3 separate regions of the Homo sapiens genome follow, and all the other regions are linked to region 3. The links come from fine-mapping of genetic effects on gene expression. A gene starts in region 3. Each other region holds a variant in brackets. All regions are shown on one strand. Distances are between the middles of the regions.

The links. PIP is the estimated chance that this variant, and not a neighbour inherited with it, causes the effect. A credible set is the group of variants that fine-mapping cannot tell apart.
Region 1: its variant is the best candidate, but not a certain one, in a credible set for the expression of STYXL1 in sigmoid colon (GTEx, PIP 0.77).
Region 2: its variant is the best candidate, but not a certain one, in a credible set for the expression of STYXL1 in esophagus muscle (GTEx, PIP 0.85).

What each region holds. Positions count from the first base shown.
Region 1 is chr7:76,297,721-76,301,876 of GRCh38, forward strand. No RefSeq gene overlaps it. Among named protein-coding and RNA genes, the nearest start is that of HSPB1, 2.9 kb to the right of the region's middle. RefSeq lists a silencer at 1,692-1,986. The variant T/A (reference allele first, on the strand shown) is at 2,354.
Region 2 is chr7:75,882,654-75,886,809 of GRCh38, forward strand. It overlaps RHBDD2 (rhomboid domain containing 2), which reads left to right. Exons shown (of 4, transcript NM_001040456.3): 3 at 1,045-1,195. Among named protein-coding and RNA genes, the nearest start is that of RHBDD2, 5.7 kb to the left of the region's middle. The variant C/A (reference allele first, on the strand shown) is at 2,110.
Region 3 is chr7:76,045,988-76,050,112 of GRCh38, forward strand. It overlaps STYXL1 (serine/threonine/tyrosine interacting like 1), which reads right to left and starts at 2,013. Exons shown (of 9, transcript NM_001317785.2): 1 at 1,675-2,013. It overlaps MDH2 (malate dehydrogenase 2), which reads left to right and starts at 2,119. Exons shown (of 9, transcript NM_005918.4): 1 at 2,119-2,239. The coding sequence starts at 2,174. RefSeq lists enhancers at 1,486-2,268, 1,714-1,803, 1,914-1,993, 2,269-3,050 and a silencer at 2,244-2,403.

The sequences.
Region 1 (4,156 bases), 250 kb after region 3:
TGACCTCACCTCGACTTTATACAGCTGGGGATGGGTGGGGCTGGGAGCACTGGGGAGCAAAAACCTGGGGCTTTCTGATGCTGTCCCATGGGGTGTCAACCAGGAGCTCCCAAATGAGACCCACTGGGCTCATGACAATGACCCAGCCAGGGAGGTGAGGTAGAAGGCAGGGGTCCTGTCTGCCTCCCACCATTGGCTCCCGAGAGCCCCAGGAGTTCAGAGGCCTTTCCAGGAGTGATCTCAGATTCATGGTCCAGCCCCAGCTCTTCCCTGATGGGGAGCAGGTGGGTAAGACAGAAAGGCATCTAGGGCCGGTGGCTCACACCTGTAATCCCAGCACTCTGGGAGGCGAGGCAGGTGGATCACGAGGCCAGGAGATCAAGACCATCCTGACTAACACAGTGAAACCCTGTCTCTACTAAAAAAAAAAAAAAAACAATACAAAAAATTAGCCGGGCGTGGTGGTGGGCGCCTGTAGTCCCAGCTACTCTGGAGGCTGAGGCAGGAGAATGGCGTGAACCCGGGAGGCGGAGCTTGCAGTGAGCCAAGATCGCACCACTGCACTCCAGCCTGGGTGACAGAGTGAGACTCCGTCTCAAAAAAAAAAAGAAAGAAAGAAAGGCATCTAGGTCGGGCGCAGTGGCTCACGCCTGTGATCCCAGTGCTTTGGGAGGCCTAGGCAGAAAGATCTCTTGGGGCCAGGAGTTCAAGACTAGTCTGGGCAACATGGTGCGACACCTGTCTCTACAAAAAATTTAAAAATTAGCCAAGTGTGGTGGCACACATCTGTAGTCCCAGTGACTCAGGAGGCTGAAGCAGAAGAATCACTTGAGCCCAGGAGGTCAAGACTGCAATGAGCTATGATCACTCCACTGCACTCCAGCCTGGGCAACACAGCGAGACTCTGTCTCAACAAAAAAAAAAAAAAAAAAGGAGAGAGAGAAAGGCATTTATGAGCTCTCTCTCAAAAAGGAAACTGAGGCTCAGAGAAGGCATGAGGACTTGCTGCTTCCCCAGCTCATCAAGGTGAGTGGCCTGGAGTCTGCCCCGATTCTGGGCCTGGGCAGGGCAAGACTTCAGTGGCCTTGGCTCCCCATAGAAGTAGGAGGAGTGGAGCCTCAGTCCCAGGATAGGGACAGCAAGTACAGTGGGACAGAAGAAGTGGGAGGCCCTGGGTACTAGAGAGGCAGGAGGTTGGCTCTGAGAGCACTTTACCGGAGACAGCAGAAAGCCATTTAATCTCTGTGCACAGCAGTTTCCTTGTCTAAAAACCAGGGATAACAGGGCCGGGTGCGGTGGCTCACACCTGTAATCCCAGCACTTTGGGAGGCCGAGACAGGTGGCTGACTTGAGGTCAGGAGTTTGAGACCAACATGGCGAAACCCTGTTTCTACTAAAAATACAAAAATTAGCCGGGTGTGGTGGCTCATGCCTGTAATCCCAGCACTTTGGGAGGCCAAGGCAGGCGGCTCACTTGAGGTCAGGAGTTTGAGACCAACATGGCGAAACCCCGTTTCTACTAAAAATACAGAAATTAGCCGGGTATGGTGGCACATGCCTGTAATCCCAGCCACTTGGGAGTCTGAGGCAGGAGGATCGCTTGAACCCAGGAGGCGGAGGTTGCAGTGAGCTGAGATTGCGCCACTGCACTCCAGCCTGAGTGATAGAGTGAGACTCTGGCTCAAAAAAAAAAAAAAAAAAAAGACAAAAAAAAAAAAAACAACAACAACTAAAACAGGGACCTAAGTCAGGGGAGAAGGAAGGCTGGAATGGCCATGCCTACAAAGACAGGAAAGAGGGAATGTCAGGGTTGTGGCAGGAGCCTAGGGCAGCACCCTCCCTCCAAGCTGGGAGATAGGAGCCAGGATCCCATTGGTGTTTAGATGGATGAGGTAGGGTCAAGGGGCAAGCTCCAGGCTCTAAGCACTTCTGTGCAGACTCTACTACTTGGAGCTCCCCTCTCCCTCTGTGATGTGGGCATCAAAATCTGCAGAAAGGGAAACTGAGGCCTAGAGAAAGGAGGGGATTTGCCCAGAATGACACAGGAAGTCCAGACTAATTCAAGTTTGCGGCATTTGAGGTTCCTGGCCAGTGTTTCTTTTTCTTTTTTGTTTTTTCTTTTTTGTTTGAGACAGAGTCTCGTTCTGTCACCGAGGCTGGAGTGCAGTGGCGCGATCTCAGCTCCCCGCAACCTCTGCCTCCTGGAATGATCCTCGTGCCTCAGCTTCCCCAGTAGCCGGGATTACAGGCACCCATCACACCTGGCTAATTTTTTGTATTTTTGGCAGACACGGGGTTTCGGCATGTTGGCCAGGCTGGTCTTGAACTCCTGAACCCAGGCAATAAGTCTGCC[T/A]CAGACTCTCAAAGTGCTGGGATTACAGGTGGGAGCCACCACGCCCGGCCAACCAGTGCTTCTTAAGGAAAGATACATATAGTAGGAGATGTGACAGTAATCTTCCTCCTGGCCCCTCTCAGCACTGTGCCATGGAGGTTCTGATCTGGGCCAGCTGCGCTGTTAGGGGAAGGGGGAAAATGGCCAAACCCCATGTATTCTCCTTCCTTTTCCCTCTCTTCAATCCCAGGCAGGTAACAATAATTATGATGTACCAGGCTCCGGGCCAAAGTCATCACCTGCATTAGGTCACCAAATCCTCAGGCCAACCCATTACAGTCATGAGTCACTTAATAACAGACACATTCAACAAATTCCTTGTTAGGCAATTTCATCATTGTGGGAACATCTCAGAGTGGACTTACACAAACCTAGATGGTCTAGCCTACTACACACCTAAGCCATATGGTCTAGCCTACTGCTCCTAGGCTACAAACCTCTACAGCATATGACTGCACCAAATATTGAAGGCAGCTGCAACATGAGGGTAAGTATTAGTGTTTCTAAAGATAGAAGATGGCCAGGCGCGGTGGCTCACGCCTGTAATCCTAGCACTTTGGGAGGCCCAGGCGGGTGGATTACTTGAGGTCAGGAGTTCAAGACCAGCCTGGCGAACATGGTGAAACCCCATCTGTACTAAAAATACAAAAATTAGCCAGTGTCGCGGCACTTGCCTGTAGTCCCAGCTACTCAGGAGGCTGAGGCAGAAGAATCACTTGAACCTGGGAGGTAGAGGTTGGAGTGAGCCTAGATCAGGCCACTGCACTCCAGCCTGGGCGACAGAGGGAGACTCCATCTCAAAATAAATAAATAAATAAATAAATAAAACATAGAAGATGTACAGTAAAAACACGGTAATTGTTTTTGTTTGTTTGTTTTGAGACAGGGTCTTGTTCTGTCATGCGGACTGGAGTGCAGTGGCACCATCAGGCTCACTGCAGCCTCGACCTCCTTGGCTCAAGTGCTCCTCCCACCTCAGCCTCCTGAGTATCTGGGACTACAGGTCCACGCCACCATGCCTGGCTAATTTGTTCTGAATTTTAGTAGAGATGGGGTCTCACTGTGTTGCCCAGGCTTGTTCCAGCCTTCTGGCTTCAAGTAATCCTCCCACATCAGCCTCCCAAAGTGCTAAGATTACAGATGTCAGCCACTGCACCCAGCCAGTAATATAATTTTATGGGACCACCTTCATATTTGCTGTCCCTTGCTGACTTACACATCTTTATGCAATGCATGACTGTTACCATCATTATCATCTCTATTTTCCAGATGGGGAAACTGAGGCACAAAGAATCTAACTTGCACAAGTTCATCTGCTTAGTGATGGAACAAAGATGTGAATTCAGGCAGTCTGGCTTCAAAGTCCACACGCCTAACAACCACACCAGATTACTAGATTGCTTTTTTCTTTTTTCTTTTTTTTTTTTTGAGATGGAGTCTCACTCTGTCACCCAGGCTGGAGTACAGTGGTGAGATCTCGGCTCACTGCAACCTCTGCCTTCTGGGTTCAAGCAATTCTCCTGCCTCAGCCTCCCCAGCAGCTGCGATTACAGGCGCCCGCCACCACACCCAGCTAATTTTTGTATTTTTAGTAGAGATGGGGTTTCACCATGTTGGCCAGGCTGGTCTCAAACTCCTGACCTCTGGTGATCCTCCCACCTCGGTCTCCCAAAGTGCTGGGATTACAGGCGTGAGCCACCACGCCCAGCCCAGACTGCTTTATTTTTGTATTTGTATTTATTCATTTACTTATTTTGAGACAGG
Region 2 (4,156 bases), 160 kb before region 3:
TTTTTTCATATCTGGTAATTTTTTATTTTATGCTAGACACTGAATGCTGTATTAGGGGCTCTAGATTTTGTTGTTTTCCTTTAAAAAATGTTGACTTTTGTTCTGATAGGCGGTTAACTTACTTGAAGATTGGCTTGAAACTTGAGGTTTGTTTCTAAGCTCTTTTCGGGAGAGTCTAGCATAGCCTTTATTCAAAGGCTGAATCTTTGTGGCTGCCTAATCAGTGGTGGGTGACTTAGGTCAGACGACCAGGATACCACCAAGTTGCTGGGGATGGTGACAGGGTATGGAGGAAGCACAGCCAGAGAGGCCCACATGAAGCTCACATGGTCGCACTGAGGCAGGTGCCCTCTATTTGAGATAAAAGGACGAGGTGTTAGTCCCTCAGGATGATACTGGTACAGCCTCCTGCCTTATCCTGCTACACCAGCAGAGGCATGTCCTGGCTTCTGACTGACTGCAGTGGCTAGAAGGGTGCAAGTGGTGGCACACATGGGTGTAGGAGAAGGGACAGCATTAATACCCCCTGCTGCTGGGCGCATTCATTCCCGGTGAGGCACAGTGAGTAGAAACCTTTGGCTCTGGGGTCAGGCGCAGTGGCTCACGCCTGTAATACTAGCACTTTGGGAGGCTGAGGCAGGCAGATCACGAGGTCAGGAGTTTAAGACCAGCCTAGCCAATATGGTGAAACACTGTCTCTACTGAAAATACAAAAATTAGCTGGGTGTGGTGACGGGCACCTGTAGTCCCAGCTACTCTGGAGGCTGAGGCAGGAGAATGGTGTGATCTGGGAGGCGGAGCTTGCAGTGAGCCAAGATCACACCACTGCACTCCAGCCTGGGCTGCTAGAGTGAGACTCCATCTCAAAAAAAAAAACAAACCTTTGGCTCTGGGTTTCCCCTGAGCTGCAAACTCCAGCCAGAGTGTGCAGCGTGCTAAGCATGAAGGCTTCTGTAGAGTGAGTGGGAACCTGTGTTCTCCCCGGGGAGTGTTCGGCCCTCCTCCCTTTGCTGCCTCCAGTTTCACTTAACACGCCAACCTCAGATGGCCTCACCTACTGCTATTCCATCGACCTCTCAGAGCGAGTGGCACTGAAGCTCGATCAGACCTTCCCCTTCAGCCTGATGAGGAGGATATCCGTGTTCAAGTACGTCTCAGGGTCTTCAGCCGAGAGGAGGGCAGCCCAGAGCCGGAAGTAAGTGACAGAACTCTTAAGTGCTGTTAAATCTTTTTTAAAAAAAAAATTATTTTTTTTTTTTGAGACGGAGTCTCACTCTGTCACCCAGGCTGTAGTGCAGTGGCACAATCTCGGCTCACTGCAACCTCTGCTTCAGGTTCAAGTGATTCTTCTGCCTCAGTCTCCTCAGTGTCTGGGATTACAGGTGCCCACCACTACATCCAGCTAATTTTTTTGTATTTTTAGTAGAGATGGGGTTTCACCATGTTGGCCAGGCTGGTCTCGAACTCCTGACCTTGTGATTTACCTGCCTCGGCCTCCCAAAGTGCTGGGATTACAGGCGTGAGCCACTGCCCCCGGCCAAATGCTGTCAAATCTTATTCTGTTTTTTTATTCTTTTTTTTATTTGAGGACAGGGTCTTGCCCTGTTGCCCAGGCTGGATTGCAGTGGTATGATCATAGCCCGCTACAGCCTCACACTCGTGGACTCAAGTGATCCTCCCACCTCAGCCTCCCAAGTAACTGAGACTACAGGCACATACCATCATGCCTAGCTAACTTAAATTTTTTGTAGGGACAGGGTCTCCACTGTGTTACCAAGGCTGGTCTCAAACTCCTGGTCTCAATCCATCCTTCCTTGATTTCTCAAAGTACTGGGATTACAGGTGTGAGCCACTGAGCCTGGCCTAACCTTATTATTAAAGCAACTCCAGGGCATGCAGAGGGTGTGGCTGGTTTATTGCCGTAAGTGATAAAGAAATGAGGTGCGGCAGATTGGAAAATAATGCACAGATGTCTTCTGAGCATTCTGGATTCTGCACAACTGCTTCTGAAGTAGCAACAGCAGGAAAGGGAAGGCATTTGAGGACACTTAACATGTGATCCTGAGTGACTTGTAGATAGGCTGGGCAGGAGGGCCCCCATCTAATTGA[C/A]ATTAGACACATACCTGCTGCAGGTCAGCCTGGGCTGTGACACACAATAGCCTCGATAAGTGCAGATAGGGCTGGGTGCGATGGCTCACGCCTGTAATCCCAGCACTTTGGGAGGCCAAGGTGGGCAGATCATATAAGGTCAGGAATTTGAGACGAGCCTGGCCAACGTGATGAAACCCCATCTCTGCTAAAAATACAAAAATTATCCAAGCGTGGTGGTGGTTGCCTGTAATCCCAGCTACTCAGGAGGCTGAGGCAGGAGAATCACTCGAACCTGGGAGGTGGAGGTTGCAGTGCACCGAGATCACACCACAGCACTCCAGCCTGGTTGACAGAGCAAGACACTGTCTCCCAAGAAAAAAAAAAAAAAAAAGGTGCAGACAGTCCACACAGCCAACTAGGCTGCTTAGGAGGTGGCCCAGCCCAGGTTTTCTGGTGAGGTTTACTGTTTTCCAGTTGGCTGATTAACTCACAGATGGAAAGTGCTGGTAAGCCGCCAGAGCTTGTGTGGCCTGGCTGCTTCATTTTATAGAGGAGGCCCAAAGAAGACAAGGGTCTTTCTCACCCACTCTGTTTCCAGGTAACAGAGTCAGGAGAGGGGCCATCTGGAAGCACGTCCCCTGCTTAGGAGGCCACCTCCCTCCCTCTCCCCTGTTCCCAGTGCCTCCTGCCTCTGAGTTCTCCGCTGGTTTCTGTCCATGCTGAGACCTCACAGTGTAGGATTTTTTCTTTCCTTCAGTGGTCCTCCCCCCAAAAAAGGAGCTCGCTGGGAAAGGCGTGTTCATCCATTTTGTATTGCTATAAAGAAATACCTGAGCCTGGGTCATTTATAAGAAAAGAGGTTTATTTGGCTCATGGCTTCGTAGGCTACACTAGGATCATGGCACCGGCCTCAGGCAGCTTCCAATCATAGGGCAAGGGGAGGCGGCACCACACATTGAGAGAGGGAGGGAGGTGCTGGGCTCTTAAACACCCAGCTCTTACCTAAACTCAGAGGGAGAACTCATTACTACGGGGAAGAAGCCAAGCCACTCACGCAAGGTCTGCCCCCGTGACCCAGACGCCTCCCACTGAGCTCCACCTCTAGTGCTGGAACACTGGGAATCACGTTTCTTTTTTTTTGAAATGGAGTCTCACTCTGTGGCCCAGGCTGGAGTGCAGTGGCGTGATCTCAGCTCACTGCAACCTCCACCTCCTGGGTTCAAGTGATTCTCCTGTCTCAGCCTCCCAAGTACTTGGAATTATAGGCGCGTGCCACTATACCCGGCTAAAGATCCATTTCAGCACATGATTTGGAGCAGAGGAAACATCCAAAGTGTATCAGAAGGCAAGGTGCTTGGTCCTTGGCCCTTTTTGGCCCGCCACCAGCTGTGGAGTAAATTTTCCCCTGCACGCTGGCCTGGATGTGGGGTTTTTGTTGAATAGGAAGCTGCCCTTAGAGCTTCTTCCAAGAGGTGCTCCCAGCTGTCAACAGCTCAGAGCCCTTGGACTATTTTTCTAAAAGGCCAGGAGGGCTGCTGGGAAAACAGAAATGCGGACTCACCGCATTATTGCTTCAGGCAAGTAATTCCTGGGGTCTCAATGTGGGGGAGACTGTACATTTAGGACTAGGTGTTTTGTGGGTTTTAGTTGTTCTCATTGAATCTGGAGAACTGTCTGTCACCAAGGAATCCCCTCTGTAATAGCTGATGGTGGTCTCCAGCTGTATCTCACATACAAGAGCTCACTCTCCAAGACTGGCCCTGATGAGAAAGTTCTTCCATGCTGAAGGGCCGGGCGCGGTGGCTCACACCTGTAATCCCAGCACTTTGGGAGGCTGATGCGGGTGGATCACGAGATCAGGAGATCGAGACCATCCTGGCTAACACGGTGAAACCCCATCTCTACTAAAAATACAAAAAATTGGCCATGTGCGGTGGTGGGCACCTGTAGTCCCAGCTACTCGGGAGGCTGAGCCAGGAGAATGGTGTGAACCTGGGAGGTGGAGCTTGCAGTGAGCCGAGATCGCGCCACTGCACTCCAGCCTGGGCAAAAGAGCGAGACTCCG
Region 3 (4,125 bases):
GATAAGATAAACAAAGGACACTGCTTGCCCTAATGTCCCCACTCCAAAATAAATGATCTATTCACTGTCCCCTGAATACTGGCCTATGCTTATTTTTTCCCGCTAGGATTTTATTTGGCCTTTTTTCTCCTCCTTTCCTGTCTAAACATTTCCCATTGTTAAATGCTCAGGCCCTAGTGCCCCTCCTTTGAGAATTCTGATTCCAAGGCAAGGGATCTTTCCCTCCTCTGGAGTTGAATGTTCCATTGAGAAACACCTACTCTTCCAGCATGTCTCAGCTTATCTGCTGTGTGTGTGTGTGTGTGTGTGTGTGTGTGTGTGTGTGTGTGTGTGTGTGTGTGTGTGTGTGTGTGCGCGCGCGCGCGCGCGCGCTTTTGAGCCGGAGTTTAGCTCTTATCACCCAGGATGGAGTACAATGGCACAATCTTGGCTCACAGCAACCTCCACCTCCTGGGTTCAAGGGATTCTCCTGCCTCAGCCTCCTGAGTAGCTGGGACTACAGGCACACGCCACCATGCCCAGCCAATTTTTGTATATTTAGTAGAGATGGGGTTTCGCCACATTAGCCAGTCTGGTCTCAAACTCCTGACCTCAGGTGATCTGCCCGCCTTGACCTCCCAAAGTGCTGGGATTACAGGCATAAGCCACCACACCCGGCTTTTTTTTTTTTTTTTTTTGAGACAGAGTCTTTCTCCGTCGCCCAAGCTGGAGTACAGTGGGGTTATCTCGGCTCACTGCAACCTCCCTCCACCTCCCGGGTTCAAGCGATTCTCCTGCCTCAGCCTCCGGAGTAGTTGGGGCTACAGGTGTACACCACCACGCTGGGCTAATTTTTGTATTTTTAGTAGAGATGGGGTTTCACCATGTTAGCCAGGCTGGTCATGAACTCCTGGCCTCAAGTGATCGGCCCGCCTCAGCCTCCCAGAGTGCTGGGATTACAGGCATGAGCCACCTTGCCTGGGGGTGTTGTTTAATTTTAAAAATATGTATCAGGCCGGGCGCGGTGGCTCACGCCTGTAATCTCAGCACTTTGGGAGGCCGAGGCGGGTGGATCACGAGGTCAGGAGTTCGAGACCAGCCTGACCAACGTGGTGAAACCCCGTCTCTACTAAAAAAAAAATACAAAAAATTAGCCAGGTGTAGTGGTGCGCTAATCCCAGCTACTCAGGAGAATGAGGCAGGAGAACCACTTGAACCTGACAGGCAGAGGTTGCAGTGAGCCAAGATCGCGCCACTGCACTCCAGCCTGGGCTAGAGAGACTCCGTCTCAAAAAAATAAATAAATTCATACATTTAAGTAATAAACTCATTGTGAGCAAGGAATTCTACTCGACTTTCTGTCTGCGTAAACTCTACAAATCCACTTGGCCTCAGCCACAGTGTCTTTATTCGTAAAGCAGAAACAGTGGGACCGTCAGAGCACTGCCGGGCAGGCGAGAGAAGACAGGAACTGTATGACCACGGAAGTTGTTGTCCCTACAACCTATTTGCTCATCTGGAACACAGAATAGTGGTCCTCTAAAGCTTGCAGGGCTGGAGGTCGCCATTATCAGCAGTGGTGTCACTAAACCTGAACCCAAGGGTCTCTGCAACTTGGGAAACGACGGCCCGGATCTGAGGAGATGGCCCCTTCCTCCCACCCCGCCTAAGGACTCTCAGCCTCCCTGACCCTACCTTTCCGGAGCTCAGAGTCCCCTCTGGCCTCCAAGGGCAGAAGGAATGGGTTTGGCTGAGGTCGGGGGCTCGGGTCTGGGACGCGCTCCACCTCCCCGGCTGCGCGACTATGGCCAGGCTCCCTGTCGGAGCCTCTGCCTGGGGCCCCACCTGGAAAAATGGCTCCTCTAAGGCGCTTCCAGCCTAAAGCCCGTCCTCTTCCACCTCTTGGGTGCAGACTGGCCCTCCCACTCCGACCGCAGGTCCCCCACCGGCCACACAGACGGCTACGCTAGAACCCAGCCAAACACCGGGGTTGCCAGGATGGTCCCACAGCTTTCCTTTCCGACTCCCGGAAGTGGCCGTGATCTCACGAGATCCCGGAGGCGAGCGCGACCGGAAGTCCGGTCACTCTCGCGAGGCCCCAGAGAGCAGGCGCTGGGCAGTGTGGAGGTCGTTGGAGTCACTTCCCCGTCACCAGCTCCTGTGCCTGCCAGTCGGTGCCCCTCCCGCTCCAGCCATGCTCTCCGCCCTCGCCCGGCCTGCCAGCGCTGCTCTCCGCCGCAGCTTCAGCACCTCGGCCCAGGTAGGCCAGACGAGGGGCGGCCTGCAGGCGGAGGCCCCCCGGCCCGGGCCACGTGCGTCCCCGGTTCGCGGGCAGCTCTGACCCTCTCCAGGCCAGCCTGGACCGCAGGGATGCCCGGCACTGGCTGGAGACTGTGGCGCCCGGGGCAGGCCCTGACACTGGCCTGGAGGTGCGGGGGAGAAAGCCGGGGAAAAGGGGGCGAGGTAGTCCCGCTCCAGGGCCGGTCCATTTGTCAGGGTTCCCCCAGGTCTCCCAGATTTCCCAGAGGACCTGCTCTTGGCTTGCACGCCTTCAAGGTTGGGAAACCAGGGCTCTGCATCTGAAAGTAAACTTACGTTTTTTTCTGCAGCGTTCCATTGCTTTGACGTAGCTAATCTCCTTGCAGCATCCGTGTGAGTTGTGCGTGAATAAAAGAAATCGTATACTTCCTAATTCCATAGTATGGACAAACCGAGGCTAGAGAACTGGGCCAGGGTTACAGTCATTTGGCCAGAGGATTAGAATTCAGCGCTTCTGACCTGAAGACGGCTTCCTCTTAACCTTTTTGGAGGATCTCTCCTGCTGTGGGCGGACTGAGCCTGCCGCCAGGTGTCTTAACAGTGCTTGACTTGGCCCGCGACCACTTAAGCCTAGGAGCCTAGGCTATTTTTAGCCATCTTCTAGAATGGTGGTTCTTAAACTCTGCAGTGTGTCAGAATCACCAGAAAGCTAATAAAAAACAGACGTCTGGGTTCATTGAAGAAGCTTAAGACTGCGGGGGGGGGGGGGGGGGTCCGCATTTTTACCAGGTGAATCTAATTAAACCTAATTTTGAGAACCCAGGAGGTGCTCGCATTGCCTTTTAATTACGACGCCCAAGAGGGAGGTAATTTTAAAGGGGAATCCAAATTTATCATCGAAGTTCTCGAGTTTCCTGTACATCCAGTTCATTTGAAAAATAAATACAAATGCTCCTGGATTGATGGCTACTTCCCATACCCATCGCAAGTTGGTAATATCCTAAGTCAAAAGGCGAGTTTAACTTTGTGTATTTTCAACTTGCAATGGGTTCCCACAGGCAACCCCATTGTAAGTTGAATGTACCAAATGCTTTTGCGCTGCGGTGAAGTGGGGGCCCAGCTGTATACAGATAAGTACATTAAGTACCTGTGCTTGCCAACAACTATGCTGGGTGCTGCAGGGGATACCAAGATAAGTGAGAAGTGACACTTGATATGGGACAGGAATGAGTAAACTTAGGACAGGTGGAAGCGATGAAGGTCTTAGGGAATGAGTAAACTTAGGACAGGTGGAGGCGATGAAGGTCTTAGGGAATGAGTAAACAGGACAGGAGGGATGAGGTGTGGGGGAGGGGCAGCCAACCAAAGAGAGGACAGGGGTGTCCAGGGAGAGGTTGAGTTTTGGTAGGACCTTCAGATATCCGACATATTTATTGAGCTAGGTACTGGAAATACAGCGGTGAACAAAACACAGAAGTCCCTGCTCTCACGGAAATTACTAGATATTTTACTTATTGCCCCACTCATTATAAAGTATCTTAAAATAGTGATGAACATGCAAGAAAAATGGGGATTGTAGGGTGCTTGTGTTAGGGAAGAGGGTACCAATTTTATTTACTTTTTTTGATGCAGTGCCTCGCCCTGTCGACAGGCTGGAGTGCAGTGGCGTGATCTCGGTTCACTGCAGCCTCCACCTCCCAGGTTGGAGCGATTCTCCTGCCTCAGCCTCCCGAATAGCTGGGACTACAGGCGCGCACCACCGTGCCCAGCTAATTTTTGTGTTTTTAGTAGAGATGGGGTTTCACCATGTTGGCCAGGATGGACCTGACAGAGTCCCACTCTGTTGCCCAGGATGGAGTGCAGTGGCGCCATCTTGGCTCACTGCAA